Homo sapiens: one gene and its partners. The protein of the gene in region 2 purifies or fractionates together with the protein of the main gene of each other region. This does not show direct contact. Each region holds a gene or a part of one and is shown on either strand. Other genes may lie near its edges.

Region 1 (6,583 bases), on a different chromosome or scaffold from region 2:
TGAACAGAGAGAATGGTGACAGTATGGTAGTAATCATCTAACAATCAACAAAGATAACTAGGATGGTGGTAGCAGGAAGTGAAAAGAGGTAGATTTAAGAAGCAAAGAGAAAGGCCTACACTCATCTGAATCCTGCTGAAAGACCCCTTAGGCTGGCTAAAAGCGAGAATAGCTTTAAGCAGAGTATACTGGTTTTTAATTACAGCTTTTCTGAAGCCAATATATTATCCATAGGAAGGTACACACAAATGACTCAAGTTCCGGATGTACATTAATACAAATTATTTCAAGAACAAGATTAACACTTTTTTAGTGTTCTGTGTGAGGAAGTATCCTCAGCACTTGAGCGTGCTAACTAATCGAATCTTCACAAACCCTATTAAGGCGGATCAGTCCAGAAAACTGAGGCCCAGTAAGATTTGAAAACTCGCTCAAGGTAGAAAGCAACTGGGTCAGGATTTTTACCCAAGCAGTTCTACCCAATTTATATTGTTAGCCAATATAAATTCTAGTAAAGCCACTACTGAAACTAAAACACAAAAACAGGGCAACAGCTTACACACACTGAGGGTATGCCTACATCAGTGATTCATGGGACACACACTGTGAGCAGCTCAAATGTAAATGAAGACTGTCCAGTGGGAGGCATTAAGTTGCTTGCCCATGGTAAAACGCCTCTCTCAATTTGCTAAAAGAGCCAATAAAAATGTAAACCTTAAACAATGAATGCAAGATGGAAAGAAAAGACAACAATTAGAAGCACTGGAAACAAACACACACACATCAAAGTGTGTTCAGGAAAAGGACTGCTGTTTAATTGTCCATTATGGGGAAGGGAGCAATAACCTGTCTGATTTCTGTTCAAGTCTGTTTTGAAAGCCCACAAGAATGGCTTTTATTGGGAATCAAGAGAATTGGGGAAAAGAAAACATTTGCTAAATACTTATTCTATGCCATACACTATTAAATTATTTATGTTAAGTCATTTAATCCAAACAATCCAGAGATGAAGATATTATCCTAACACATATAAAGATTAAACCTAAAACACGGCAATTTCAAATCTTAAGGTATTTCCTTTGTCTTAATATTACTCATCAAAAGTTTACATACGTGAAGGGTAAAACTTCCTAACATGTTTAGGTACTATCTGTTAAAAAGCTTACTGCTTGAGCAAACTTATTTTACTTCAAACTATAATTATCTTGTCAACTTCATTGTGTAACTTCATTTCCACAGCTGTGGTGTGTGGGTAGATGGGACTTCCATTATATAAAACCACCAAATTGAGGAAGGTGGTTTCCACATACACAGCATATTCTACACTGCCACATTAGTTCATGAAACATAAATGCACAGGCTCATCCCAGACCTAAAACTACCATACAGTTTCATGGTAATCTTAAAAAAGTAAGTCCCAAGGTACCTTACAATTTTTTCTGAAATAATATTAAAACAATTCCTATTCTAAGAGATCAGATTTACAAGATCAGAGCCCTGCATAACAATTCAGAAGGTTGTTTCTGATTATTATTCTGAGCAAATGGAGACTGCTTCCATATGTTCTATTTCCAAAGTGCTAAAATCACCTTCCACAGAAATCTTTAAGGAAGAAGGGGATGTTTCTGCCTCAGTGAGAAATTGAAAACAATGTTCTATTCCAATTATTCTCATGTAATTCTCCTCAGGAAGTAGGGGTGGGGTGAGACAGAACAAATGAAAAATTCTATTAAGATTATTTAATTTTATATATTTCTCACCCCTCAAAGAACTCAATCTGGCTGGGCACCGTGGCTCATGGCTGTAATCCCAGCACTTTGGGAGGCTGAGGTGGGTGGATCACTTGAGGTCAGGAGTTTGAGATCAGCCTGGCCACATGGTGAAACCCCAGCTCCATTAAAAATACAAAAAAAAAAAATTAGCCAGGCATGGTGGCACACGCCTGTGGTCCCAGCTGCTCGGGAAGCTGAGGCAGGAGAATTGCTTGAACCTGGGAGACGGTGGTTGCACTGAGCCGAGATCGTACCACTGTACTCTAGCCTGGGCGACAGAGCAAGACTTGGTCTCAGAAAAAAAAAATAAGAAAGAATTCAATCTGAATTTCTATTAGATCAAAAACAACCAGACATAAAAGGTGGTGGTAGTGGCAGAGGAATGATAATTTTAGATAAAAAATTTCAACTTTGCTCCTCTGAAAATTTTACAAACATAAAAAATGTTTCACCACTTTAAAAAAACTTTACAGGAAACTTTAATACCCATGCAATTTGTTTCAGATAGGCACAATTCCAGATGGATATACCTGTATGTTAATACACTCAAGGGTTTACTCATAGATAGCTTCACTTTCCAGGCTATGTAATTTGTTTTCATTATTCAAATTATTTAATTGAAAGAAGAACTAGGAATTTCCAAAGGTTGTCATACTAATTATGTTTTTTTTTTCCAAGCAAATCAGTTCATACTTAAAACAAGACACAGTCTGAGCAAAGATGATAACATAAGTGTTAAGAAAGCTATTTCTTTCTCCTGTGCTGATTTTGCGCTCTGTCATTTATAAACTAAGTCACCTTGGGCAAATCACTTAATTTCTCTAATAGCCTCCACTTCCTCATTTTTGAAATGGGACTAATAACAGTAATAGTACCTACAACTTGTTAGGATATGAAAAATAAAAGCATAAACAGTGCCTAGCAGCACATTGTAAATCTTAGCTTAGTTGCAATTAAGCAGCAGCAGTTGTTGGATAGTTATTCAAGCTCTCTCATTTGGTCCACTTCAAATTTTAACCAAAACTTTTTTCTTTAATAAAAATATACTTTTCTTCAATCAATGTACATTTTATTACATTTTCTTTTAACAATTCGATGTGGTCACTTCTTGCTCTTGTGCTACACCCAGCTTCATGCCTCTCTATTCACTTAAAATTGCCTGTTCACCTAAAAATAAAGATACTAGAGCTGAAAATCTATCAGATTTGAATCTGTTCAACTTCTTACTGATATAAGAAATTCAGCAAAAGGCTAATGCTGAGTCAAAGGTTAGTGGCTTTGAATGCTACTTTCAGATCCTAATTTTTTCATTCCAAAGACGAATTTACCACTTATAATACATTGCCAATTTACTACTACTGAATAATCTATCTCTCTCACTAATATAAACTAAAACTATTAAACAGGAAAATGAAAAAGGCACTATGCCAACTCTACTATTTATACAACTTTCTTATTTTAAAGCAATTCAAATTATATAACATTAACTTTTAGAAAATAGCAACAGCCCAAGAAGTGACAGACCACTAATATTTCTAATAGTGTCTTTAACAAAATGTTTTTTTAATTGAAGAAATACCAACTTTAAGTGAACTTTCTGAAGCCTGAGGAGGATACAGTCAATAAATTCGATTTTGCTTCACTCTATTTTAAGTGAAAGAGACAAACCTGTGGACAAAGGTCCCTGATTATTAGAGCTGGACCCACTAGTGACAATCGTTAGCTGTGCTTACTACAAATCCAGTGTATATGCAAGATGGGTAGGTATGCCTCAGGCCTGTTTCGAACTCGAAGGGAACTGAGGACATCAGGGTTTTTCCTTCCTAAAGGTCAAACTGTTTTCATGTATGAGCTTATCCAATTCCTGAGTAGGAAGAGGAAGTGAACAGAGCTTAATTTGGGAATATTTTAGATTAAAAAGTACCACCTTCCTTCTCATTTTTCTCACCTATCTTTCTCTAATGGTATGTTACTGTTAAATTAGATGTTTTGCTATTCCCACAATTCTTCCTTTCTTCATACTCATCTAAGCAATCCTATGTTAAATGAGATGATTTTAAATGGTATCTATACCTACTTAATTTTTAACAACAAAGCCGACACATTCTGTATGTCTCCTCTGTTCATACCACTTTCTCTTTAAAGCCCTGGATTAGCAGCAAATTTCAACCCATGAAACAGATTTCTGAACATTTGTTACGTTTTAACCAAATCCGAAGACACACATTTTCACCACTTTAAGATATAGTTAGAATGTCCCCTCCAAAACTCATGTTTAAACTTAATCCCCAATGTGATGGTATTGAGAGGGAGTGCCTTTAAGAGGTGATTGGATCATGAGGACTCTGTCCTCATTAATGGATTAACCCATTCATGGATTAAGGGATTATCATGAAAGGGAAACTGGTGGCTTTATAAGAAGAGAAAGACAGACTCAAGCTATTACATTATCACGCTCAGTCCCCTTACTCTGTGATTCTCCATACCACCTTGGGACTCTTCAGAGTCTCCACCAGCAAGAAGGCTCTCACCAGATATGGCCCTTTGACCTGGGGCTTCTCAATCCCCCAAAGTGTAAGAAATAAACTCCTTTTCTTTAGAAATAACCAAGTTTCAATATTCTGTTATAAGCAACAGAAAATGCACTAAGACTATCTAAAATGCCTTCTTTTAAGAATTATGTCAGAGAAGCAGAAGAGACATACAAAAAGGAAAAGTTAGGGGGTTTGACCTTTTAACTAAATTCAGCATGAACTAAAAAAACTCAAAAGTTTGCCATCCTTAAGTCTGAGCTTTATTTTGGAGTATCAAAAAGGTCAAATGAGCTTTCTTAAGGTTTAGGCATCTCGCTTCTGTATCTCAATTTTGCAGGATGAGAAAACCTAAGAGAGATTTCATTTTTCTATTATGTTTCATGACACTACTACCTGCTGTTTAGTTATCAAAAACACTCCAAGGATACAATATAGTCATGTCAGAAAAATCTCCAAATATAGTCACATTGAAAAAGCATATAACCCATTAACTATCGGTAAAAGTCACATGTGAAAAAAATAACTTAGAAATCTTATAGAGGTTAGGGAATTAGAAATATAAACTTACCACCCAGAAGGAAGGTCCCAAGTCCTAATAGAGCAATCCATCGCAGCACTTATTAACCAACGACCATCAGGACTAAAAGCCTTTAAATTAAAAAAAAAAAATATATATATATATATATTATTTATATATAAATATATATGAATATATTTGTATGTATGTGTGTATGTATATATAGTTAACACCTTAAAGAATGTAATAAATGAAAAGATAATGCAGGCTTCATAAAAAAATTAATTTGACTAACATTCAGGCTGCCTTATTTTATATAAAAGAAAATACCACTTCCTAAATACCACTGATTTGGAATCTGGATAAAGATTAGACTTTTAAATGAATTATTAAAAGTTAAAAAAGTGTACTGCATTAATTTTCAAATCACAATCTTCTATTTATTTATAGACAATGTTTATGTGTGTGATAAGGGCTTACTTTTCTTGAAGCTTAAGTTAAAAATCTTTTCTCTTTTAATAATGCTTTATTTCTAAACAAACTATAATAATCAGATTTTCAAAATAAATTTAAATAAACTACTTATGCCACCCATTATTTTTTCTAGCTATGAAAATGGATAAATAATAGATCTCTCTGCCTGTAGTACCTAAGGGTTGTGAGGCACAAACCAGATCACAGGTGAAAGATGACCCAAAAGGAAAAACTTTAAAGTTTACAGTTGTAGTAGACTGTTCATCCATCAGTTTAAATTAGTAGATGATACTGGGATACGTAAATGTTGATTTGTTCCTCAGGCTGCAGTAATACAATGGGAACTCAAATCTCAAGTTATAGATAGATCAATTTACAGAAGGGTGGTACAGATAGTAAAGGATGGGAAAGAATGATTCTGAGAGGTAAAGTCATGTTATAAATGCTCACAGATTTGACTAACCGGAATAACTTATTACTGAGCAGGGAAACTCGAGATATACAAGTTGAAAGTAAGGTTTGAAAAAGAAATAGGAAGAGCAACTTGACACTGACAGATGTTTTCAAAAGTGCCATTTCAGCACAATTAACCCAATCCCACCCTCATTTCTACAGATGCTGTCAAAACAAATTCTGCTGATGTATAATTTTGCCAGCCTCCTATCTGCAGAACACAATGTCCTGACCATGTTTTTTTTCTTCAATTTTGAAGGAAAGGAGTAAATTCTGATTTTTGGTGTGAGAACTAGTAAATGCAGCTGTTGGGTTCGTCACTAAGTATTAAGATTTTATTTTTATTTTACTTTTTCTATTTTCAAGCAAATCAAGGTATCTGCAATTGATGAAAGATGATAATATACACTTAATATGGTCCTCAAGTGACAAATTTATTTTAAAAGTTCTTTTTAATGAAATATGCTATTTAAACTAGTTTACTTCTTTCCATATCATATATCCCATTATAAGAACATAATAGTAAACTTAAGCACATTTTTATTAATTAAACCCTTTCAGAGTTAAGATATGTAAACTCTAGAAATAGCACTAAACTAAAATAAACCAGATACCAGATATTCCAGGGAAATGGTCTTCTACTATTAATTCATTCCATACATAGTAAATCAGAAATGAGTTCTCCCAGCCTATTTTAATATTAAGTTAAGAATGACATATATACCAATGGATCATTCATTCTCTAAAGTATACTTTGGCCTTGTTTAGAGTTAATGAAAAAAAAGATGAGTTCTAAAACTTATACTTTAATTTGATCGCATCAACTCCCTGAA
Region 2 (5,293 bases):
GTTCCGAGGAGAAACTGGCCCCCACAGTGAGCACACCCTAGGTGTTCTTAGTATTTCGCAGGGACAGTGCAGGTCTCCCAGCTGTGGCTCTGGCCTGAGTTTTGTCCGCTTTGAGCACACAGCCTGGGGATGGGGCGGCACTGTGACCATCCAGGGAGCTTACTGCAGCCAGAAGGAGCCCCTGAGCAGTGGGGTGCTCTGAGGTACTCTGACCAAATGCCAGGGGATCAGGCAGATTCACCCACAGGTGTGCCAACTGCTCTGCCACCAGAGCCTGTAAACACTGTGCCTCCCACCACGGCCCAGCGCAAGCCCCAGCCTAGAGCTGCCCCTCTAACAACCGTCTAGCGACAGAGCTGCAAGGCCCAGAGCACGGGGCAGTCTGCACCTCCTGAGCAGCAAGGGCCCGGCTCCCTCCATGGGAGGCACATCAGAAGTGCCGAGAAGCGCTCCGCTGAGAACTCACGCTCCTCCAGAAGAACACCAAGCAGCAGAAAGGGCGCAGTGAGTGTACATCCTGGGAGACCTGCACGTTCTGATTCCACCCAGACCCAAGTGGCAAGCCTTGCCTCTGAAGCGGTCACAATTTCCGTGGTACAGCAGGCCCTTTCCCGTGAAGCTGAGAAGCACCTGGAAAAGAGTAAGAAAAATTAGAACGCAAGTTTTTCATGCTCTCTGATTTCCTTAAGGCAGTAGTAACCAAACTTCAAGGGAGACACCTAAATAGCAAAAGTCCCCAAATGCTGAGTGTTCTAGAGCTCAAACAAGCCATGAGACACCAGCCAGCAGTTATTCGTGTACACTACTCCTGGCCACAGCCTGCAAGCACACTAGCACTGTGAAGGTCGGTGGTCACTCAGCACAGTGTTTCCAGAACAGCAACTCTGCTGTGCAACTTGGGCTACGTCATCTCAGGCTACAATTGCCATCCTGAGGCGAGGCCTGACGATCACACAGAACTCAAGGCAGCAATGATCATTCATTCTCTTACCATCAAAAGACCCTCAGGTCCTGTAAAGACAAATTCAAAGGCACTAGCATTCTCAGTCCACAGAAGAAAGAAAGGAAAGCAACGCAGACACAAGTCACGCAGCTGAAATGCGCAAATAGCTTCTTACTCGCATCTCGTGTCATCCTATAAGCTGAAGTCCATCTAAGGAAGTGAGAGAAGCTCACTTGGATAACCCTGTTTTGGTATAGTTGCTTTTCTGATTGATTTTCTTTTTCCTCGAACTTTTAAACTGATTAAAAAAAATTTTTTTAGAGATGAGGTCTCACTATGTTGCCCAGGCTGGAGTACAGCAGCTATTCACAAGCATGATCACAGCACACTATACCCTCTGATTCCTGGGTTCAAGCAATCCTCCTGCCTCTCAATGCCACCACATCCAGCCTCTGAGAGCCTTAAACAGTTTTAAAAACTGACTCATAATAATGACACATATTTTATGGGGTACATAGTGATGTTTCAACATCTAAAATGTGTAGTGTCACGTTAGAGTTATTAGCATATCCATCATCTCAAACGTTTTTCATCTCCTTTTGCTGGCGACGTTCAATATCCTCCTCCTAACTGAAACTACATACTACTGTTAACTACAGTCACCCTACAGTGGTATAGAACACTAGCACTTATTCTTCCTATTCTGATAGCCTTTTCATACCCAGAGGAAAAATGAAAATATAGCAGAAAGCAATCTTTTGAGACAGGGTCTCACTCTTGCCCAGGCTGGAGTGCAGTAGCATGACCACGGCTCGCTGCAGCCTCGACCTCCTCGGCTCAAGTGATCCTTCTGCCTCAGCTTCCTAAAGAGCTGGGACTACAGGCACATGCCACCACACCTGACTAATTTTTTTCTTTAAATGTAGAGATAGGGTCTTGCCATGTTGCCCAGGCTGGTCTTGAACTCCTGGACTCAGGCAATCCTCCTGCCTTGGCCTCCCAAAGTGCTGGGATTACAGGTGATAGCCACCGCGTCCGGCCTCAATTACTTTGCTTTTCTGAGAGTAACATTCCTGAGAGTAAGCAAAGGCAGGGCAGCCTGACTTTGGAAAGACCCCTGCTCTCACCAAGGTGGCTCTGCAGCCTCTAGTCTGTAGAGAAGTCACTGCACTTTACTTCTCCTCCCAAGGAAAGGAGGAGTCACTAGTGCTATAGGCTTAGCCCCTCAAAGAAGCACAGTTTCCATTGTGGAGATTTACAGATTTAGTCTTGCCCCATATGGCCTCTGGTGTTTACTATAATGCGCCATGGTGCCAGGGAGCCACAGCACATCATGAGGCAGATGTAACTTGGGAGACGTGCAGCACAGAGGGTCCTTACTTCCACCTGGCACCAGTTCGCCAGGGTTACCTCGGCTGGCTTCCATACGAGCGGCTCTCCCCTTATCCAAGTAGCACCCTGGTCATGTCTGAAGCGGGTCTACAGTAGGAACAATGCTAGGTCAAAGCTGAGACACCATGAGACTTCCCATGCCAGAATTCCAGGAGGCGTACCCAAGAATCGCAGACTCGGGATAGGGTGAGGCAGACGCACTCAATGCAAAGGTACCAACCCGGGGCACCTGAGCCCAGTTCTCAGGTGCTACCAGAGCAGCCTCAAGCCTGAGGCTTTTAGAAGTTCCCTATTTCAGAAGATGCTAAGGGGAGCACCGACCACATGCCTGCTGTGCTCCCACAAATCTGTTCTGATGGAGTTTTCACACTTGGACAGATTTAAAGCTGCTCCTCTCAAAGTCTTGCACTGTGGCCTCTGGCTGCTACCTGGATTTTCCCTTTAATGGAAACAAAGTTTAGAGAGCCTTCTGTTAAGCAATCACATCTGACAGTGGAGCAGCTTGCATTCCAAGACCTTGTTGTACCCAATTAGCCCTTGGAGAAGATGCACCATTACCTTCCCTTTTTTTTTTTTTTTAAACTGAAGAGAAAAAAACAAGCCGAGGGTTAGGAACTCCTCCACCGCACACAAAAGCGCACCACCCTGCCCCCCGCAACTTTCCCTGTGATCACACAGGCTGAGGCTGACCTGGCGGCAGCTCCAAGTGGGGACCAGAGGAAACCCCAAGAGTAGAAGTGCGTGTCACCCTGAGTACTGACAAAGCACAGCCTCAAAGGACAAACCAAAACAACAACAGCGTCAAGGCAAAGACACCAAGACCCTTGGCAGCGGCAAAGCACCTAGGGGTGGAGAGGGCAAAGGCACACGGTGCGCGTGGCACACTGACCGTCGGGTGATTACCTGGCAGACTCTGCGGGATATGGGTGGGCACCGCAGCGTGTGGGAGAGGCGCTGCATGGGGCGGGCTGGAGTGCAAGCCAGCCAGAAGACCTGAGAGAAAACAGGAGGGGAGAAAAGAACAAAACACACACATTGAAGACAGGAACAGGAAAGCAGCTCCAGCAGCCAAAAGCCCCCGATAACCTGCCAGGCCAGTCTGGGCACCACACCCAAAGGGGCAGTGGGGGCTTGGCACAGTTCCCGGAGATGTTCCCCACAGTCACACACCAGACTCAAACACAGGAACCAGAGTACACAACAGCAGGACCCCTGGCCACAATCTAGAGGTTCCTGAGTGACCAGAGGCAGCAAAGAAGCACTTACTGTGGCCAAGGCCATGGTGGAAGGACCCGGGGGCAGGGCCTGTGACGATGGCATCCTTGGAGACCCCTGCTTTGGCAGAGGAGTCAGCGCTGAAGGAGAGCACATGGACAGGAATAGGGACAGGGGTTATAATTCCCAAGGAGTTCGAGCTCATGGCCCCAGACAGCTTTGGGCTGCTGGATTTGTAGGGTGAAGCCATCAAAGAGGAGCCGGCCAGCAGCACAGTCCCACTCGCTCCTTTCTAGGGAAGAAACACAGCAAGCGGTAAGAACTCCAGTCCTGTTCGTGGCTCACTCACACCAAACCTGGCAACACAAAGGATCCTCCTTGTGTGTCCACAAAGGAGGACATACACATCCATGTCAGATGGCCCTGGGAGGCACCCTCCGACCCTGCAGCCCCAAAGACAGGATCCAGGACAGTCTTTATGAACCAACATGGAATGGATTCCAGGGAACATAATTTTTTTAAAAGCAGGATATTAAATATGTCTCCTACAGAGGTTGCAGTGAGCTGTGATCGCGCTACTGCAGTCCAGCCTAGGTGACAGAGCCAGACTCTGTCTCAAAAAAAAAAAGCCTCCTTTGTGAAGGGAAAAATGTAATATAGATATCCATAAATGTTCATGGATATTTATATGTGTATATATATTTATATACATACATACACACACATACATATATACCTTTATTTATATTTATTAATCTTTTGTTTAAAAAGAGGAAAATAAACCAGAAACTAAAGAGCTTAGTTACCTTACAGAGGTGGTGGGTGCAGGAAAGGAGGTGAGACCTCCAACAGACCTTTCTATGGTTTTGTCTTTGCAACCACTTCATTTATATATTAGAAAAAGAGGCCGGGTGCAGTGGCTCACACCTGCAATCCCAGCACTTTGGGAGGCCGAGGCGGGCAGATCACGAGGTCAGGAGATCGAGACTATCCTGGCTAACATGGTGAAACTCCATCTCTACTAAAAACACAAAAAATTAGCTGGGCGTGGTGGCGGACGCCTGTAGTCCCAGCTACTCAAGAAGCTGAGGCAGGAGAATGGCGTGAACCCGGGAGGTGGAGCTTGCGCTGAGCCGAGATAGCGCCACTGCACTCCAGCCTTGGTGAAAGAGCAAGACTTCGTCTCAAAAAAAAAAAAAAGAAAAAAAGAAAAGAAAATGCTCACTCCCTCTTCCCGAACCTGCTGTGATTACACACAAGCGAGATGCATTAATTATTGGACTCTGTCCTTCAAAAACCAACAGAATCACTCTTAGAAGGTCCTGCTATTCCTGGTCCATGAACACCTCCACATGACTCAACTGATAGAAGACAGCATTTCCAGCCCCCTTTAGAGAGATGGAGAGGCAAGGGGTCACGGAAGGCAAGGGCTGTTGCTCATTCTGTGCCACACAGACAGCCTCCGAAGAGGCATGGTGCTTGGTGCTGGCCATCCTTTAGGTCCCTCTGCCCTCCTCAGAAGAAGCTTTAGGCCATCCTGGGCTTCCTGTCACCAGAAAAGTGAATACCTGAGAACAGGGAGCCCAGTCTCCCTTCCTACGTCTGAGCCCACTGTTCCTACCTGACCTGTGGTTTTAGATCTCACTCTCCACCCGGGGCAAGGCAAGCAACCTCATCCCCAAGGCCCCTGTGAGTGGGGCAGGGCAGGCTGCTATGACAGATACTCACTGACAAGGAGGTAGA
Region 3 (6,583 bases), on a different chromosome or scaffold from region 2:
ACAGGTTTCAGGCAAATAGAACTTTACTCAATAAATATTTAGATTTATCTTTACCTTATATATCTGAAAGGTAAAGTTTTCTCCTCCTGTTGGACTGAGAACTGAGTAGGTATGAAGTAAGGTTCCGAATGGCTTGAAATCAACTTCCTTTTCCAGTAAAGAAAGGAAATCATTCGTGTTTGTGCAAAATCCAGGTGGAATGATTTGTCTAATTTTGCCCTCAACATCATCTGCCTAAAGAATAAAGGATATAAAAAATTAATAACAAATTCGACTTTAAGTTGAATATGGTTTATTTCTTTAAAACTGACAAAACCAACACAAATTACAAAACTTTGGTTGAAAACTAAAGAAGTAAACACACAGCGAATTGGAAAAGGATGAGCTTCCTGTGCACAAACTGCATCACACAAAACTGAGATGAGCATAATATAAAAGTAAATAAGAGAAGGCAGGTGACCTGATACCAAGTACAATAATAAGGGCAATGCTATGGACATTTCCATTATGCAGAAACAGCTGACTATACCCCTTCATGACAGTCTGAACTGGCCAAGGCAAAAGGTTGCTTATTATTTTATATGTGTCAAAGAAATCATATTATCCAAGACATGAAAAGATCACCAGCAGTGGTGAGATGAGACTAGAGTCTGACCAAATGAATAGCAATCTCACAACTAGATGGGTCACAATTCCCTCATATGCCAAACTCAAACTAAGATGATAACTTAAAAATATACATATTTAGGAAATAACATAAATTATATGAATGGATATATCATTCTTTTATCCTTAGAATGTGACACAATTCTTACAGACCTGGATTTGTGACAGTAAAAAAGAGACAAGACTGGACAACAAAACTAAACTCGGAGATTAAAATTACCCTTGTTAAACAACCTCTATCAATGTTATCAGCTGAGCAGACTTCATAATCCTTTTCAAAATCCCAAAAGACCACTTGATTGAATACATTTACTACTTCTCTTTAACCATGAATATTTGATGAAGTCTTACAATAAAGTATTGCTGCTTCTCACCAGGCAATAAAACTTAATGAATTGGTCTCAACTTAACAAAACCTTATCCCTCAATACAGTCCCTAAAAGCCTGACATTACATTCAACAAAATGAGCTTGTATTCTATTCAAACTTTTTCCTGAACAATGAGGCCAGGTTTTTACTTAATGGAGTTTGCCGTGAGTTCAGCTGTAATGTTTGTATTGTATCTATTTCCACAAGGACTGACACAAGAACACTTTGTGTTAACTTACTAAGCAGCTCTTTCATACCGTTTACATGCATGATGGGTATTAGTTCTAAACCAAGACCCTTGCTACTTAGCATTCAAAACAGGGAAATTAAGATGCTTAGGACAAAATACACTACAAAAGGCTAATACAACATGCTACTAATTCCTATCCTTTCAACCATCTTTTAACTAAGTAGAAGCAATGCACCTGCAGATGAATAGCACTTTATTATGATTCAGTTACATTTCAGGATAGAGAACCAGTGATGACGTTTATCACAAACAAGTTTTATTTTCAATGCTCTGGTACCACCAACATTTATATATAATTTGTTTATAGGTATAAAAAAGACCTATTATTGAAAATATAGCTCTTCAGCATTTTGCCCAACAGTTTATTTCTAATATGTACATCAGTCCTTGCAACTCATTCACACTCTAGATCAAATAAACTGCATTTCATAGGACAGTTTTTGCTTATTTTTAAAGTACTATTTGATAAATATTTTTCCTTGAAATTGCTAACATGAAGAGGCCATCGTAAGCATATTTTATAGTATCAGTACAATTTCAACAGCTATCAAGGAAACTGTCATAATGAGGGATAGCTGTAATAGATGTGTTGTGTAGCAATTAAAATCCAAAGTAGTGATGAGTAAAACAGTATAGTATGTTAGTTAAGGTTTTTAAAAAGCCAAGAAAAACTACTTTTAAAAAGGGATTTATAATCTATCAGTTTAAAAATCACTTTAAGACTTTCATAGCATGTATAATTTTAACTTTTAAAAACTTTCCTTATGTCCTGTCTTCTCAAGAAGGCATTGCAAATCACTTTACATATCTTGTATCAAATCTACTTCAAAGACTTCTCAGAAACTCTAAGTTTCAAGTAGCACTTTTGGTGGCGGGCAGAGCAACCAGAAGGTTTGAGCCCAACAAAGTTGAAAAAGGGCTTTCAGCCTTCAAAGGATGTCTATTTCCTGTAATAAATATCTTCAAATAAAATAGTTTGCTTTGTGTAAGTTTACACATTAAGAATTTTTACGGGGCAAAGGGCAATTTTAAAGCAAGGAATCTTTATATAATTATATAAATATATATTTATAAATAGTTATGTATATAAATATGTATCTGATATACTTACATAAAATATACAACTTAAAACCAAATAGTTCTTCAACCTAGAATTTACAACTTCGCTTCACTAAAGGGAAAATGTCTGCATTTCTCTATTAAATGGATTCTGCTTTAAGAAAAAAAAAAATCCTGACTACCATGTCTTAGAGATCTGTACTCTTTTCTCAAATATATAATTTAGTTTAATTTAAAATATTCGTCTTTCAGATTGGATTACTGATCAGATAATAAAATCAGCACAAGAGCAAGACCTCATTTAATCATTGTTAATTGAATAGAGTTAAAAATGAACAGAAACTTTTTAATTCCAATGTTTGTGGCTAAAAGTTTAGAATCTATTTCTGAAGATCACTGAAAAATTCCCTGTATTCCAGAGCATTATTCTAAACTTCAACTAAAATTATACAGAAATATAGAAAGGGTAAGAAATTCAGCTGACTAGACACACCAGGGAACTAGAATTTCAAAAAAATTTTTAAAAAGACACCAGGCTGGGCATGGTGGCTCACACCTATAATCCCAGCACTTTGGGAGGCCAAAATACGCACATCACCTGAAGTCAGGAGTTTGAGACCAGCCTGGCCAACATGGTGAAACCCTGTCTCTAATAAAAATACAAAAGTAGCTGGGCGTGGTGGTGTGCACCTGTAATCCCAGCTACTTGGGAGGCTGAGGCAGGAGAATCACTTGAACTTGGGAGGCGGAGGTTGCAGTGAGCCAAGACTGCGCCACTGCACTCCAGCCTGGGTGACAGGGTGAGACTCCGTCTCAAAAAAAGAAACCAGAATACAACCTGATATATTTAATTAACAAAGACATCTCTTACAAATGGTTTCCTAACGCTTGGTAATTTATTTTTAAAAAGGAAAGTGCAAAAGTATTCTAGTTAGATATTCTGGTAGGTGGGTCATTATGAAATATTTTTAGATTGTATACTATTTAACTATGGTCATTTCAAGTTCCAGTGTTCTGTACTTTATTACACATGAACATGTTCATATGGAGCAATTTTTGCATTTCCTCATTATTGAATAAAGCGATATGCCTGATAATTAGTAATCTATTTTTTTAATGTTTATATTTGTATTTATACACATTTGAAAACCCAATAACCTCTCTAACATCTTATCTTAAGCAGCACCATTTGTCTAAATTTGTCTAGTTATTTTTGAGATTGAAATTAAAGGCACGTTAAGTAGGTGGTAACATGTTGTTCTTTACTTGGCTAAAGTGGTACATAGACTTAACTATAATTCTAAGACTACCTAAAATATGCTAAAAAAAAAAAAAACAAGCAAAAGAAATTCTGTATCTACTTAATGTTCTCAATCTCATGTTCTCTGATAATATTTAAGCTTTAACTACAGAATGTATTGTTGAGAAATTAAAAGTGTGAACTTTTTCACTAATGGAAAAACAAAGGTCATATTATGTTTATTTACACTGCATTAGTATTTTGCTACTTGAACTAAACAAGATAAACTTGTCAATATATACTTTTAAAGCTCTTTATGATATTTCATAAAAAGTATTACTTATCAAGAACACCATCACAATTTGAAATTTTACTAGTCTACCAAAGATTTTTTCGAAATTTCTGGAAGTATGTAGGATTTTCCTAGAAAGAGGCTAAACACTCCATAAAATTTTTAAAATCTGCTCTCATATCCTCTCAAATTCAATCCAATTAGTGGGACACTAGGATAAAATAACTGAAATTCACAGTTAATACAAACTTTATCCATCTATTTCAACTTCCTGTACCAAACTTTTCCCAGAAATGCTAGCAATTAGCAAGACAACAATCTTAGTTACCCACTACTTCACTAAAAGGCAATGAAATTACCCCCAAGAAAAGGCAGGAGGTTTTTGTTTTTAAGACAAGAGTCTTGCTCTGTCACCTAGGCTGGAATGTAGTAGTGTAACCATAGCTTACTGCAGCCTTGACCTCCTGGGCTCAAGAGATCCTTCTGTCTCAGCCTTCCAAGTAGCTGGGACTACAGGAGCATGCCATCATGCCTAGCTTTTGTTTTCGTTTTTTGAGACAGAGTCTTGCTCTGTCACCCAAGCTGGAGTACAGTGGCGCGAACTCGGCTTCCTGCAACCTCCACTTCCCGAGTTCAAGTGATTCTCCTGCCTCACCCTCCTGAGTAGCTAGGACCACAAGCACGCACCACAACACCTGGCTAATTTTTGCACTTTTGGTAGAGATGAGGTTTCACCATGTTGGCCAGGCTAGTCTCAAACTCCTGACCTCAAGTGACCTGTCCACCTCGGCCTCCCAAAGCGCTGGGATTACAGGTTTGAGCCACCACGTTCAGCATTTTTTTTTTTTAATAGGCAGGGTCTTATTATGTTACCAAGGCTGGTCTCAAATTCCTGGCCTCAAATGATCCTCCTGAGTCAGCCTACAGAGTAGCTGGCATTACAAGCACAGAGCAGGAGGTGTTAATAAAAGCAAAGGTCAAGGACAACCAGATGAAAAAATCATCAGTGTCTGAATAATCAAGTTTATTGTATTGTAAAATTCAGAATTATGTTTCCTTTAAAGATGGTGGCTAGTAGAGATTTTATAGGCATCTTAATTGTGACTGAAGAATTTTAGGTGCAACTAGAGCATTCAGCTTGGAAAAGTAAAAGAATGGATGATTAAAAATTAATGTAATGACATAATCCTAATAAGAAATAACTTCTAAGCAGATGTTATGGCTGCTGACCATCTATGCAGTATGATCTGCAAAGCCCTAATATATTAGACTCAAACCTAACATCCAAAATAAAATTTTTTTATTGTTTCCACTTAAACCTATTTCTTCTATAGTTTTCCCAGTTAACAGTACCATAATTGAACTTGGGCAATGGGGTTCTCGTTTTTTTTCTTCATCTGTCACATCTAATTCAACAGCAGACCTCCAAAATGTTCCTTACTCTGACAACTAAGTCCAGTGTCACCTCTAACACTGCAATGTTCCGGTCTCTTCTTTCACTTTTGCCCTATACAGTGTGTTCTCTGCACAGCAGCCAGAATCATATTTTAAAAATATAAATCACATTGTTTATGACCTCCACCTACTTAAGAATGCCTCTAAAGAATGCCAACTACTCTTATTTCTTGCAAACACCTATCACAGAACACAAGATCCTATATGATGATCTAGCTTTGCATCCCCTTCAACCATCTCCTACCCCTCTCTCCATCACCACAATGATTTAACCCTGGTAATCTTTCTGGACTACAAAAATGCCAAAAATGCTGTATTTTTAGAGCCTTTGTATCTTAGTAAGCTTTACCCTCAGATTATAACATGGCTGGTTCCTCCTTTATCATTCAGAAATGAGCAAAATGTATCTTCATAATACTGCCTGAATTTAATTTGTGTATTTACTATTTTGTTTACTGACTGTTCCTCTTGGCTAGAATGTAAGCTCCATGACTTTGTCTGCCACTGTATCGCTGGCATCAACAACACAGAAGGCACTATGGAATGAACACTCACTGCAAACTGAGATAGAAGAAGCAAGCCCATGACCCACATATCCCCTACCCAATCGTTTTTAATAAGGGGAAAAAAGTCTTTGTTTGAATACGCAATATAAATGATCTTTGACCACAAAGCAAATAAGTAACTCTACAAAGAGACATTATAAAAGATTGATTCCTTATTCCTAACACAGTATTTCTAAATGGAAAAACCTAATTTTCAAGAATGGAACAATTAGATGTCAATGCAAATACACAGCTATTTTCACTGCATGAAATATTTAAAAGATTTATCTATAACTAAATCAATAGTTCCTTTGGAAGAAATCAATTCAGTGCTATCAGCTGCAACTGTAAAAAACAAAAACCCTCCAACAGTGGGTTTACACACAAGGAAAAACATCACCTGCATTTTTAATAAGAATATCTAGCTGGGCTTGGGTCTGGAGAATTTAGCAATCTACATATTTGATTATGAAAAAACTCTATTTTAATAAATGTGTTAAATGCTAGTTTATCTAAGATTACATCTTTTCAAACATCAAACCACTACAGTATTACTCAGAATCACTTTTGTATCTGCACAATTTCAAAAGTTATCCTGGGAAACAAACTATATAAAATAAAACAAATATTAAATGTAGTTACATATTATTTATCTGGCAAGCTCAGTCATCTCAAACATGGCTGGGAAGTGGGGAAAAACACACAAA
Region 4 (6,583 bases), on a different chromosome or scaffold from region 2:
CACCATGCCTAGGTAATTAAAACATTTTCTTTGTAGAGGCAGGGTCTTGCTATGTTGCCCAGAATGATCTCAAACTCCTGGCTTCAAGCTATCCTCCCACCTTGGCCTCCCAAAGTGTTCGGATTACAGGTATAAGCCACCACACCAGGCCAGTGTAACCTTGTAAAAGCTCTTATTTTGTGCTTTATATTAGAGGCAGCACAGCCAGTAGTTAAGCTCAGTCTATCTGGGTTCAAATCCTGACTCTGCTCTTGTAGTTGTGTGATCTTTTTAGTTTCTTCACCACCCTGGAACTCAGTTTTTTCGTTGGTAACCCAAGAGAAGTGATTGTACTTATCTCATAGATTTGTTGTGAGGATTAAATGAGATAAGCCCTGTTCTTAGAATAGTGCATAGTGAATTATAAGTGCTCAATAAATTTCCAGCTTATTTATTCCTCACAACACGCTGCGAAGTAGATTATTACCCTCATTGTGCAGATAAGGGAATGAAGGCTCAGAGAGGAGGAGGAGCTTCCCATAGAACAAATTGAACAAGGGTTCAAACCCAGGACACTCTGACACCTAAGCTTGTGGTCCTTCCATTCTACCACCTACCTCTTGATAGGTACTTGAAATACATAGAGAAGGTCACATCACTGGCAAGACCTTAAATCTAGAGTGCCTCAGAGCAAAGGGATCAACAGCCAGACTACCAGGAAGTAAAAGGGAACTGGGATCGGTGGCTGAGATCCAGTAGGAAAAGTTTGATAGCAGAAGGAAGAAAAGATGAGAGAGAGAGAGGAGACTGATTAAGAGAGGGCAAAAGGGTGGTCAAGGGAACAAATTTTCAAGCAGAAATTTTCAAGATAGTTATCTGATGAACTGTTGAAGAAACATGTGAGCTGGTAATATGTGAAATTTATGCATTTGAATTAATCATAAATTATTAAATATGTTAATGTTGATGGAATGTTTCCTATCTTTGCACATAATCATTTTTAACTGGAAAACTTTCTTTTCCAGCCATGAAGAAAGCAGATTGAGAATGGAGGAAATGGTGCCATTGTTTTCTGAGGATACAGCAGGGTCCTCTTTCACATGTGTCTCCCCGGGACCTGGTCGTTACTAGGAGCTCACATTTGGCAGAACAGGGCTGATCTGTGTACATAGCTCTGTACTGAAACTTTCTTATGCTGAGCTGACTAGCTCCACTTACTTCACTTACTTTTTTTTTTTTTTTTGCTGAAAAAATCTTTTAAAATGTTTATATTTTAATAGAAATATTTGTTAAAGAGAAATAAGCCACACTGTGCCCTGGTCAAATAGTGAAGTAAAGATTAAGTAAATATACTTGAATATTTGTTTTTATTTTTAAAATCAGCATTATCATCTTCTTAATATATAAGGACAAACATGGCTCTCAAATATTCATGGTTGACTTGTTCAACTGGTTTCCTCTTGATAACTTCAATTAGAACTCGATCAATGCATTGTGTAATTTTTTGACAGAGCTATAAAATTAACTTTTAAACTATTTTAAATACTCCACTCTTTTAAACTATGCCTAGAGTGCCACAAGTTAAATCTAATTTGAGTTACAAAATAGTATTTACATTATATTAATTGAAGGGCAAAAAAGGTTTAAATTATTTTCCCAGCTAATGATTTGAGTCGTTACTTTAATTTATTTAATTTAGACATAGAGAATCATACAGCTTTGAGGTAGAATCAGCTTCAAGATACCATGTGGTCCAGCCCCACACCTTCAGGCAGATGAGACGTGATCCTCCCTCCTTACCTAAGCAGCAGCACAGCCACAAATCCAGCATGCCCTGAACTGTTATGAAATCTTTTTCTATACAATTTCCAGAAATCAAGAATCAATGTAATAAAACTTTCTGAATTCACAAGAAAAAAAATGGTGTCACATCATCTACCAAATTTGAGAGTCCACCACTTGGAAGGAATCATGCTGGGCATCTTAATTTAGGACAACCGTAAGGAAGGAATTATGTGGTAGGGAAATCAGGGAATATTTTACATAAAATGAGAAATACATCTTTTGGCGCTAAAGTAGGTGCTGAACTCTAACCTTAATGTAGTAATTTGTTCCAGCAACAACTTGAGTTTTATACTGCACAGCTTCCAATTTTCCGTAAGTCTCATTTGTTTTTTCTTCAAGCTGTGGTTTAACCTAAAGAAAAGAAAAGAGGAAACAAATAATCAAAGCTATATTAGACTCCATGTATGCAATGTACCCATCTGGGAACCTCATCCTCCTAAAAGTCTTCAAAGATGGTAATGAAATCTATGAACTATTTTTATTATTTCAATAGAAAACACCTGTTTTAATACAATTACATAGGTTAAAAAGTCAAATTTTGTTGCTTTAGGCTGAATTCACATCAACTCAGTGTGGTAATGCAATATAGGAGCGTTTTGACTGCTAAAACTCTAAGAGTTATATGTATCTTTGATTAATAAAAATCAGTGGAGCAATAATTACTACTTGATTAAAACATTATTTTAAAATGATTTCAGACTTAAAAGTTGTAAAATTAGTATAATGAATTCTCTTATATCATTTACAGTTCCCTTAATTTTGCCGTTTTACATAACATAGTATAATCACCAAAATGAGGAAATTAACATGGTATAATACTATTAAGTAGTCTCTAAACCTTATCAGAATTTTGCCAGTTTTCCTGAAAATGTCTCTTTTCTGCTCCAGGATCTCATGCAGGATCCTACATTGCATTTAGTTGTCATTTCTCCTCAGTCTCCTACAATCTGGGTTCATTCCTTTTTGTTCATGGCCTTGATGTTTTTGAAGAATACTGGCCTGTTAAATGGTAGAATGTCTCTCAATTTAGGTTTGTGTGATCTCCTCTTATGTTAGTATTATACATGTTTGTAAGGATAGCACAAACGTGATGTTGTGCTTAAGTGCATCCTATCAGGAGCTACGTTTCATTACTGGTGATGTTAATTTTGATCACTTAGGATGTCTGCCAGGTTTCTCCACGGTAAAGTTACCATTTTTTTCCCCTTTGTAATTAGTAAGTGTCTTGTGAGGAGTCTTGTTTCTCGCCATACTTTCATACATGAATTTTAGCATCCATTGATGGTTCTTGCCTACAACAATGATTAATTGTGGTGTTGGCCAAATGGTAATTAAAAAATCATTTCTTGTGCATTTATTATCTGGAATTCTGCCATAAGGAAGAGCTGTTCCCTCTCTCCTCTTTATGTAGTCAATTACTTATTTTATATTAATATGACTCATGGATATTTCTTTTACTCTGTGGATTACAATTCATTACTCTATTTTGTTACTCAAATGCCCTAGATTTGGCCGTTGGGAGCTCCTTCACCTGATGCCTGTGTTCTTTCAACATGCCTCCATCATTTTATAAGCACTTCCTTACTTTCTGACTCTACAAAAGTAGAGTCAGATGTTCCAGGTTTATCTTGAAGTTTCCTTGCCTCCTCACTGGAATCAACTATTTCTCCAAGGAGTCCCTGCTCCTTTTATTGGAGAACGGTATTTAAGACCCAAGATTTGGGTGCTGTGTCTCTTGTTACTAAATGTCATTGCTTCTAGGCCCACTCAGTGGAAAGGGCTACAAAATAATATGTGTACTCACACATGCACACATCTTTACGCATTTGTGTATGTGTGTGCATATATACACACATTTATCTGTGTGTCATTATATATATACATTATATATGTGTGTGTACGTGTGTGTGTGTGTGTGTGTGTGTGTGTGTGTGTGTGTATTCCTCTGATTAAAATCAAATACCACGGCCGGGTGTGGTGGCTCATGCCTGTAATCCCAGCACTTTGGGAGGCAGAGGCGGGTGGATCACTTGAGGTCAGGAGTTTGAGACCAGTGTGACCAACATGATGAAACCCCGTCTCTACTAAAAATACAAAAATTAGCTGGGCGCAATGGTGGGTGTCTGTAATTCCAGCTACTCAGGAGGCTGAGGCAGGAGAATTGCTTGAACCTGGGAGGCGGAGGTTGCAGTGAGCCGAGATCACACCATTGCACTCCAGCCTGGGCAACAAGAGTGAAACTCTGCCTCAAAATACATAAATAAATAAATAAATAAATAAATAATAAAATAAATCAAATACCACAGGACTCATTTAGCTTTTCCCTTTTCCTTATTATAACTCCTTTCTCAAACACTGAGGAAGAATCCTGGTTCTTATTATTTGCAATGTATTCGCCTATTTTCTCAGTTCTAGCATATACATAAAATAATTTCAGAATTGTTGACCTATACCCCTGTGGAAAACAATATACTAACTAGAGTGCAGTATTTGGGTATAATTCTTATAAAGACCCTGTGATTGCATGGGCTTACCTGGATAATCCAGGATAACCTCTCCATCTCCAGAGCCTTAACTTAATCACACCTGCAAAGTCTCTTTTGCTGTGTAAAGGAACCTAGTCACAGGTTCCAGGGATTAGGACATGGACATCTTTGGAGGGCCATCATTCTGTCTACCATGGAGGGATATGGGTTGGGTTTAAATGTCAGCATTCCCGAACCCAGCATGAGAAGGGAGACAGTCCCAAATTCAATATGTAAACTTTTACTGAGCCCATCAACTTTCTGTACAGTGCTTCATTCCCACTCTCAGCTGGGCCTGATATGCAAGAGTCTACTATGAGCTCTTGACTCAGTTCCTGCTAAGTGTAAAGCTCGTCTTCTGCCGGGGTGGAGGACAGTGAGGGAGAAGGAACTATGGGAGGTCTCACTGTCCTTCATACAGATCAGTCCTCTTGCTTTTGGTCTGAGACCTTACTCCTGGCTACGACTTTTTGGTGTTGCTCATGCCTGCGCCATTGTGACGTTCTGCAGTGTGAATCTGCTTGCTTCTGGCTTAGACTTTCCCCTCTATGGGCTTAGCTTCTGTTTAGACTGCTCAGCATTTTCCATTGTTCATCTGTTTTCCAACTTCCAAAATTTTATTGGTATTTCTGAGGTGGTACTTGCCTATCTCCTGTTGTCTTTATGTCTGTGGATTTGTCCTTCAACCCCAATTCTTTTCTGTCTTTTGGAGGAAAAAGGATATAACTCTCTGTGTTGAATGTACCTTGTTTATTGAGAACTTGCTTTTATGCCCTTCATGAAAGCATTGCATGTCCATACAACTTCAATCAGGCCTCCAGTCCATCTAGGATTCTCCCAAGGCAGTCCTTCCTATCAGTGGGCAGGTTTTTTTTGTTTTTTGTTTTTTTAAATTTAAGAGACAGAATCTCCCCCTCACCCAGGCTGGAGTGCAGTGGCGTGATCATAGTTCACTGCAGCCTCGAATTCCCGGACTCAAACAATCCTCCCTGGGCAGATGTTTTGAACCTTTACTACTGATGCCTCAGTTTGAGTACCAGAACTGTTTTCAAAGATGTAGACATATGCAAACTGTGAGTTCTCAGACCATTTCTGAAAGGCCAAACACTCCACGGACCACCACTCAGTTCTCCTGTAACCTTGAGAATAGACGGGAAAAGTGTGATTGTTCTGTTGAGATGGAAATGAAATTTCAAAGTGGAGAAAGGGAGAAGACAAATAGTGAGGACAAACCAGAAGTGGGAAGAGCTAGGGGCAGGAGAGCGGAGAAAGGATGCACAGAGAAGTAGAGTAAGGAAACAGGTTATTGTCTTAGGGTCCCTTTCCAAAGCCTTTCAAAATTCCAAAGGAGGGATGGCCAGTACTTGGCACCAGTCAAGTTAGGAGCTGAGTTTGAAAGAGTTAATCTCTACACTAACCCCCAAAGTATCCATTTAAACCTCATTTTATGAATGGAGAATGTAAGGCTATGAGTTGAGCATGACTGCTTAAAGTTGAAAAATTATTCAACATAGTTATTTTAAAGTCCTTGCATGATAACTTATATATCTGATCTGTGTTCCTTCTGCTTTTCAGTCATGTTTCTTTTTAAGCACGTATCCTAAGCCAACCAGCCTTTCTTTTCTTTTCTTTCTTTCTCTTTCTTTCTTTCTCTTTCTTTCTTTTTCTTTCTTTCTCTCTCTCTTTCTTTCTTCTTTCTTTCTTCCTTTTTTCTTCCTTTCCTTTCCTTTTCCTTCCTTCCTTTCCTTTCCTTTTCCTTCCTTCCTCTCTCTCTCTTTCTTCTTTCTTTCTTTCTTTCTTTCTTTCTTTCTTTCTTTCTTTCTTTCTTTCTTCTTTCTTTTCTTTCTTTCTTCTCTCTCTCTTTCATGGAGTCTTGCTCTGTCACCTAGGCTGGAGTGTAGTGGCACAATCTCAGCTCACTACAACCTCTCCCTCCTGGGTTTAAGCAATTCTCCTGCCTCAGCCTCATGAGTAGCTGGGACTACAGGCATCTGCCACCACTCCCAGCTAATTTTTTATATTTTTGGAGAGATGGAGTTTCACCATGTTTGCCAGGCTGGTCTCAAACTCCTGGCCTCAGGTGATCCACCCACCTTGGTCTCCCAAAGTGCTGGGATTACAGGGGTGAGCCCCCATGCCTGGCCCTAAGTTTTTATTTCTATCTGTCCTAGAAATATATCCAAATCTTTAACTTTTCCATCGTATCTGTGTAATCCACAAATGCAGAATTTTCC
Region 5 (6,583 bases), on a different chromosome or scaffold from region 2:
GGGTTTCTTAATGGAGCTTTAGGAGTTCTTTATGGAAAAAAGCACAGAACTAAATTCCTCAAAAAACAAACAAACAAAACCACACACACAAAAAAACAAAACTCCCATGTCTTGATCTTAATGATTGTGAGCAAGGATGGTAAAAAGCTCTGCTGGCTGACCCCTAAGACCTTGAATGGTAAGCTACAATACAGATATCACAGTCCCTTACAGATTGTTCGAAAACTCGTTGGATCATAATTAACATTGTTAGAACTCTCATACATTACATCTGATCCTAAAACAATACTATGTGATAGGTAGTATTGCCCAAGTTACAGTGATGAGGTTGAGGTTTAAAGGTTACATGACTTGTTTAGGGTCATAATACTGAATCTGAACCCAGATCTGCCTTGAATATATTATTCTTCCCAAGTTACCACACATTGAAGAAGACAGTGTTCATCCTTTTCCTACACCCACTGCTTAGAAATTTTGTCGTGGGCTGGGCGCAGTAGCTTCACACCTGTATCCCAGCACTTTGAGAGGCCGAGGTGGGCAGATCACATGGTCAGAAGTTTGAGACCAGCCTGGCCAATATGTTGAAACTTTGACTCTACTAAAAATACAAAAATTAGCTGGACGTGGTGGCATGCGCCTGTGGTCCCAGCTACTTGGGAGGCTGAACCAGAAGAATCGCTTGAACCCGGGAGGCAGAGGTTGCAGTGAGCTGAGATCATGCCGCTGTGCTCCAGCCTGGGCAACACAGCGAGTCTCTGTCTTCCAAAAGAAAAAAAAAATCTGTCACTTATTTAAAAAGTTAACTATATTTTAAAAGCCCCAGGCTTTTCATATGCTGCATTTTTTGGTGTTGTATATCAGATACTGTTCTGCTTGTAAAGACAATACAGTTTTCCATATTTTACAAAAGAAGAAATGGGAGAAAGGGGTTTAAGTAACTTGCCCTAGTCACACAGTAAGGAGAAGCCTGCTACCCAAACTTCTGGCTTGAGTACTCAACCACTTACTTTCTGTGCTTTATTTCCCTTTACGTGGCAGCACCATTCTGCAGAAAACTTCCAAGCAGTTTTTTTCACTTAAAAATTAAAACCCTGTTTACTGCCACCTCTTGACTCTTTGCCATGTGTTGGGCTGTACATTTGCTTCTAATAAAGATAATTGGTCTGTTCTTTTTCTCTTTGAATCGGGTCTTGCTCTTTTGCCAGGCTGGAGTACAGTGGCATCGCAGTCATGGCTCACGACAGCCTCAAACTCCTATGCTGAAGCCATCTTCCTCCCTCAGTCTCTCAGGCAGCTGAGACTATGGGTGTGTATCACCATGCCCAGCTGGGGTGCAGTGGTGCGGTCTCGCTCACTGCAACCTGCATCTCCCAGGTTCAAGCGATTCTCCTACGTCAGCCTCCTGAGTAGCTGGGACTAAAGGCACATGTCCCCAGGCCCGACTAATTTTTTTGTATTTTTACTAGAGATGGGATTTCACCATGCTGGCCAGGTTGGTCTCGAACTCCTGACCTCAGGTGATCCACTAGCCTCAGCCTCCCAGAGTGCTGGGATTACAGGTGTGAACCATTGCACCTGGCCCACCATACACCATTATCTTCTCATATCCACATTTCCAAGTGGGTCCGGGCTTAGTTCCCCAAAGTTAGACCAGATGGATGGTCTTATTAACTCTGCCCATCCTCTAGCAGAATATGCAGAAAAGCTGAAGTAGATTTACATATGTAGGATAATTGATAGAAAAGTAAATACTTCATCTTCCCAATTTGTAGGAAAAATTAAATTGATATTGTTATCTTCTATTCTTACCTGGTATCTCTTCCTACTCATACCAGAATACTAGAAGACAACCTCTAATTTGAAACAAAATATCTTAATTACTTGGAAGTTTTACATCAAATTTTTAAATTAAAATTCCTATAATTGCTTCAGAAGAATATTACTGGTTCCTCTTGAGGAATCTGTACCATCTTCAAGGAATGGTGGGGAGCTAGGTTAAGGAGAAAGCCATCGCCATTACTTTTTTTTTTTTTTTTTTTTTTTTTTTTGAGACAGAGTCTTGCTCTGTCACCCAGGCTGGAATGCAGTGGCGTGATCTAGGCTCACTGCAACCTCCGCCTCCTAGGTTCAAGTGATTGTTCTGCCTCCGCCTCCCGAGTAGCTGGGACTACAGGCATGTGCCACCACGCCTGGCTAATTTTTTGTATTTTTAGTAGAGACGGGGTTTCACCGTGTTAGCCAGGATGGTCCCAATCTCCTGACCTGGTGATCTGCCCACCTTGGCCTCCCAAAGTGCTAGGATTACAGGTGTGAGCCACCGCGCCTGGCAGCCATTGCCATTACTTTAAAACCTTTCCCAACTTGTGCCCAGGTATCAATGGCAATGCCCTGATGTCCTCAGTAAATTTGTTAAAGTATCTTTTTTTTTTTTTTTTTTTTTTGAGACGGAGTCTTGCTCTGTCACCCAGGCTGGAGTGCAGTGGTGCGATAATCCGCTCACTGCAAGCTCCACCTCCTGGGTTCACGCCATGCTCCTGCCTCAGCCTCCCAAGTAGCTGGGACTACATGCGCCTGCCACCACACCTGGCTAATTTTTTTGTTTTTTGGTTTTTTTTTTTAGTAGAGACGGGGTTTCACCATGTTCGCCAGGATGGTCTCAATCTCCTGACCTCGTGATCCGCCCGCCTCGGCCTCCCAAAGAGCTGGGATTACAGGCGTGAGTCACCGCGCCTGACCCTGTTAAAGTATTTTCTAAGCTTCTTTGAAAACGGAATCTCTTTGTGGTTGCTGCTGATAAAACTCCTTTGACCTGACGATTGCTCTAAGTCCTAATTGCCATATTTATATTCCCATAGTAAGAGTGTTTGGAGATAGTGTTTGAGCTTTTTTGCTGGTGTTAAAAATGCATAATGAAAGATGGCAGAGAGAGGCATATTATATCCAATTCATGAGTTGTTTGTGTTAACAGAAAGCTTATTTTAATCACTTAACATTGTTGATTTGTCTAATCACAGTAGCGCTATTGATTAGGAGCCTGACCTTTAGATGGTTGACTTGTGAGTGTATTCAATATGGTGAAATATGGTGTTGATATATGGCTGCAGATTTTAGAGGTGTCATTAGCAAAGGTATAGGAGTAAAATAGGGGTTATAGTATTCCTTACTCAAATTCTGTATGTGCTAGAGCTGGCTGGAGTCTGTGGCATGCTCATTGGTGTAAGTCGGTAAGGACTATGCTTTTTGCTCCACATCTCTGTTGTGGGAAAGCTAGTCTCTTGAGCATTCTTGATCAGAATGGACTGGAATAATTTAACTTTCGTACTTTCCCAGGCTATTAGTATTATCTAATGAGTGGCTTAAAGATACCAGAAACACTGACTGAGGTCTCCACCTGCTTCTGGCTGAATGAATGGGAGCTTCTAGCCATTGAATAAGAGGCAGTAGCCAATGTTTCTTATTCTGAATGGTCCAGGTTGACTTTTATAAGAGAAACACTCAGCCTTTTAATTGCTGAAGGTCTGACCCATAGACTAAGATTGCACATTCTTAGTCTAGGTTACACTTGAACTAGACTGCACCCACTGACGATATATTCAGTTCAGGTGTTAACTCACTTGGATTAGCATCTGGCCTGTCCTATCTGAATATAGGTTGAGACGTGTATTGGAATCTCTGACTAGTCAGAATACGTTCTTAGTTATATTCTCAATACTGAGGAATTTTTACTTGTAGAAACTGAAGGCTCAGAAGAGGATGATAAAGAAAATGATAAGACCGAAGAAATGCCAAATGATTCAGTCCTTGAAAACAAGGTATGTTGTTAGCCACTCAGTACTGTTGTCAGCCTTTTTCTGTTTTTGGGAGACTGGAGCTCACTCTTGTTGCCTAGGCTGGATTGCAGTGGGGTGATCATGATCATGGCTCACTGCAGCCTAGACCCGGGCTTAAGTGATCGCCTCACCTCAGCCTCTCAAGTAGCTGGGACTACAGGCTTGTGCCAACATGCCCAGCTAGTTTGCAGGACTGTAGCTTACCTAGTTTAGGCACGATTATTATTTTTTTAAGAGATAGAATCTCTGTCTCTGCCCAGGCCGGAGTGCACTGGCATGATCAGGGCTCACTGTATCTTTAGCCTCCTGGGTTCAAGGAATCCTTCTGCCTCATCTTCTCAGATAGCTAGGTCTCCAGATGTCTGCCACCATGTCTGGCTAATTTGTTCTCTAATTTTATTTTGTTTAGACGGCTGTCTTGCTGTGCTGCCCAGGCTGGTCTCAAACCTGGCTTCAAGTTATTCTCCTGCCTCAGCCTCCCAAAGTGTTGGGATTATAGGCATAACCCACCATGCCCAGCCCTAGGCATGATTATTATAGATAACTGTCTCTTGATTATGGATTAGGGACCCTTTATTCATGCCTAGGATGGGTGGATATATTTGATCCTGGGGTTCTTGTGTGTTAGTATGTGAGCCAACATTTCACTGTTAAAATATCAGTGACATGGTCATGACTTAAGACAGTATGTGGACCCATTCTCTAGATTTTAGGGAGAAAGTCCAAATTTTGAATCGTATATCAACTTTTTTTAAGCTACGCTAAGTTATACATTTAGATTTGTATTTGAAAAAGATGCCTATCTTTTTATTATTTGGTTATACTTTAGTCTCTTCAAGAAAATGAGGAGGAGGAGATTGGGAACCTAGAGCTTGCCTGGGATATGCTGGATTTAGCAAAGATCATTTTTAAAAGGTAAAACTCTTGGTGCTTCTAGGCTTGGGTTGGGAGTTTGGTGGTTAAATAGAAACCAGTTAGGGTTAGACAGGTACTGTTAAGGTTTTTGATCAATTTTCCTTCTTTTAGGCAAGAAACAAAAGAAGCACAGCTTTATGCTGCCCAGGCACATCTTAAACTCGGAGAAGTTAGTGTTGAATCTGGTAATGCATTTTCCATTTTATACTCTCCTACTCTCTTCAGCTCCCTCGTTCTTCCTCTAATAGATTCTCTGGAACCGAACTTGATCTTTAAAAAGATAGGTCTGTGTTCCCTGTAGACCCTGGAACAATGAACAGTCTCTTCCAAGTGGCACTCAGTCTTCCAGTAGGTTTGTTTTGTTTTGTTTTTTTTGAGATGGGGTCTTGCTGTGTCGCCTAGGCTGGAGTGCAATGGCGTAATCTCGGCTCACTGCAACCTCCGCCACCCGGGTTCAAGCGATTCTCCTGCCTCAGGCTCTCGAGTAGCTGGGATTACAGGCACCCACCACCACGCCCGGTTAATTTTTGTATTTTTAGTAGAGACGGGGTTTCACCATATTGGCCAGGCTGGTCTTGAACTCCTGACCTTGTGATCTGCCCGCCTCAGCCTCCCAAAGTGCTGGGATTACAGGTGTGAGCCACCACGCCCAGCCTCAGTAGGTTTTTAAAAGTCATTTTGACTTTCTTTATAGCCAAGGGTCCTGGAAATAACTATAAACAAAAATGGAATGTTAAATATGGGTGCATTCCCATAGGATGGGTCTGAATTCTGGAAGTATTTTATGTTGAATGCTGTCCATTTACTTGCTCTTCTTTTTCTCTTTGTTAGAAAACTATGTGCAAGCTGTGGAGGAGTTCCAGTCCTGCCTTAACCTGCAGGAACAGTACCTGGAAGCCCACGACCGTCTCCTTGCAGAGACCCACTACCAGCTGGGCTTGGCTTATGGGTACAACTCTCAGTATGATGAGGCAGTGGCACAGTTCAGCAAATCTATTGAAGTCATTGAGAACAGAATGGGTGAGTGAAGACGAGCTGCTTCATGGTGATGTTGGATCCAGCAATTAACAAGGAAGAAAACAGTTCTTTTTTGAGCCATTACTAATCACTTTATTCTTTTTAGCTGTACTAAACGAGCAGGTGAAGGAGGCTGAAGGATCGTCTGCTGAATACAAGAAAGAAATTGAGGAACTAAAGGAACTGCTACCCGAAATTAGAGAGAAGATAGAAGATGCAAAGGAGTCTCAGCGTAGTGGGAATGTAGCTGAACTGGCTCTGAAAGCTACTCTGGTTGGTTCCGTTAACATTTTGATAATAGCATGTTTGGTACCATTTATGTTAATGTTCTATTTGCCAGGAACTTTTCATCATGACTTGGTTTCCAGGGAGTTGGTGGGCTCATCTAATTATTCCTATCAAGTAATGCAGTGGTTAAGAGGAAATACCCTGGAGCCCCAGACTATCTGGGTTTTAATTCCATACTTACGTGTGGCCATGGGCCTTTCTCTCCCTCAGTTGACCGATTTGTAAAATGGGGATAATACAGGTTGAGTATCCTTACCTGAATGCTTGAGACCAGAAGTGTTTTGCATTTCAAATGCTTTTGGATTTTGGAATATTTGCATCATACTCAACAGTTGGATACCCTTAATCTAAAATCTGAAATGCTCCAGAGAGCATTTCCTTTGAGTGTCAGTCAGTCCTCAAAAAGTTTCAGATTGTTGGATTAAGGGATGGGATGCCCGACCTGTAGTACATATGTGTAAAATATACTTCTGACAGTACTGGAAAAATAGACATTTCTTAAAAAATGTAAGTTGCTATTTCCATCTCCAAGA

Evidence for each region.
Region 1: the proteins of UBN1 (region 2) and WDR36 fractionate together in Homo sapiens (co-fractionation; one large-scale study listed by BioGRID). This does not show direct contact.
Region 3: the proteins of UBN1 (region 2) and HAT1 purify together in Homo sapiens (affinity purification with mass spectrometry, with the first as the bait; one large-scale study listed by BioGRID). This does not show direct contact.
Region 4: the proteins of UBN1 (region 2) and CSTA purify together in Homo sapiens (affinity purification with mass spectrometry, with the first as the bait; one large-scale study listed by BioGRID). This does not show direct contact.
Region 5: the proteins of UBN1 (region 2) and NASP purify together in Homo sapiens (affinity purification with mass spectrometry, with the first as the bait; one large-scale study listed by BioGRID). This does not show direct contact.

The regions. Positions count from the first base shown.
Region 1 is NC_000005.10:111,111,445-111,118,027, reverse strand, and holds part of WDR36 (WD repeat-containing protein 36), read right to left. Parts: intron 4,955-6,583; coding exon 4,875-4,954; intron 1-4,874. UniProt on the Homo sapiens protein: Part of the small subunit (SSU) processome, first precursor of the small eukaryotic ribosomal subunit.
Region 2 is NC_000016.10:4,875,420-4,880,712, reverse strand, and holds part of UBN1 (ubinuclein-1), read right to left. Parts: coding exon 5,279-5,293; intron 3,843-5,278; coding exon 3,602-3,842; intron 3,329-3,601; coding exon 3,239-3,328; coding exon of another isoform or gene 3,108-3,238; exon of another isoform or gene 2,861-3,107; intron 2,775-2,860; exon of another isoform or gene 2,664-2,774; intron 631-2,663; coding exon 581-630; coding exon of another isoform or gene 463-580; 3' UTR 1-462. UniProt on the Homo sapiens protein: Acts as a novel regulator of senescence. Involved in the formation of senescence-associated heterochromatin foci (SAHF), which represses expression of proliferation-promoting genes. Binds to proliferation-promoting genes.
Region 3 is NC_000002.12:171,958,989-171,965,571, reverse strand, and holds part of HAT1 (histone acetyltransferase type B catalytic subunit), read right to left. Parts: intron 235-6,583; coding exon 55-234; intron 1-54. UniProt on the Homo sapiens protein: Histone acetyltransferase that plays a role in different biological processes including cell cycle progression, glucose metabolism, histone production or DNA damage repair. Coordinates histone production and acetylation via H4 promoter binding.
Region 4 is NC_000003.12:122,333,139-122,339,721, reverse strand, and holds part of CSTA (cystatin-A), read right to left. Parts: intron 2,176-6,583; coding exon 2,074-2,175; intron 1-2,073. UniProt on the Homo sapiens protein: This is an intracellular thiol proteinase inhibitor. Has an important role in desmosome-mediated cell-cell adhesion in the lower levels of the epidermis.
Region 5 is NC_000001.11:45,609,437-45,616,019, forward strand, and holds part of NASP (nuclear autoantigenic sperm protein), read left to right. Parts: intron 1-3,732; coding exon 3,733-3,812; intron 3,813-4,659; coding exon 4,660-4,745; intron 4,746-4,856; coding exon 4,857-4,930; intron 4,931-5,576; coding exon 5,577-5,765; intron 5,766-5,868; coding exon 5,869-6,035; intron 6,036-6,583. UniProt on the Homo sapiens protein: Component of the histone chaperone network. Binds and stabilizes histone H3-H4 not bound to chromatin to maintain a soluble reservoir and modulate degradation by chaperone-mediated autophagy.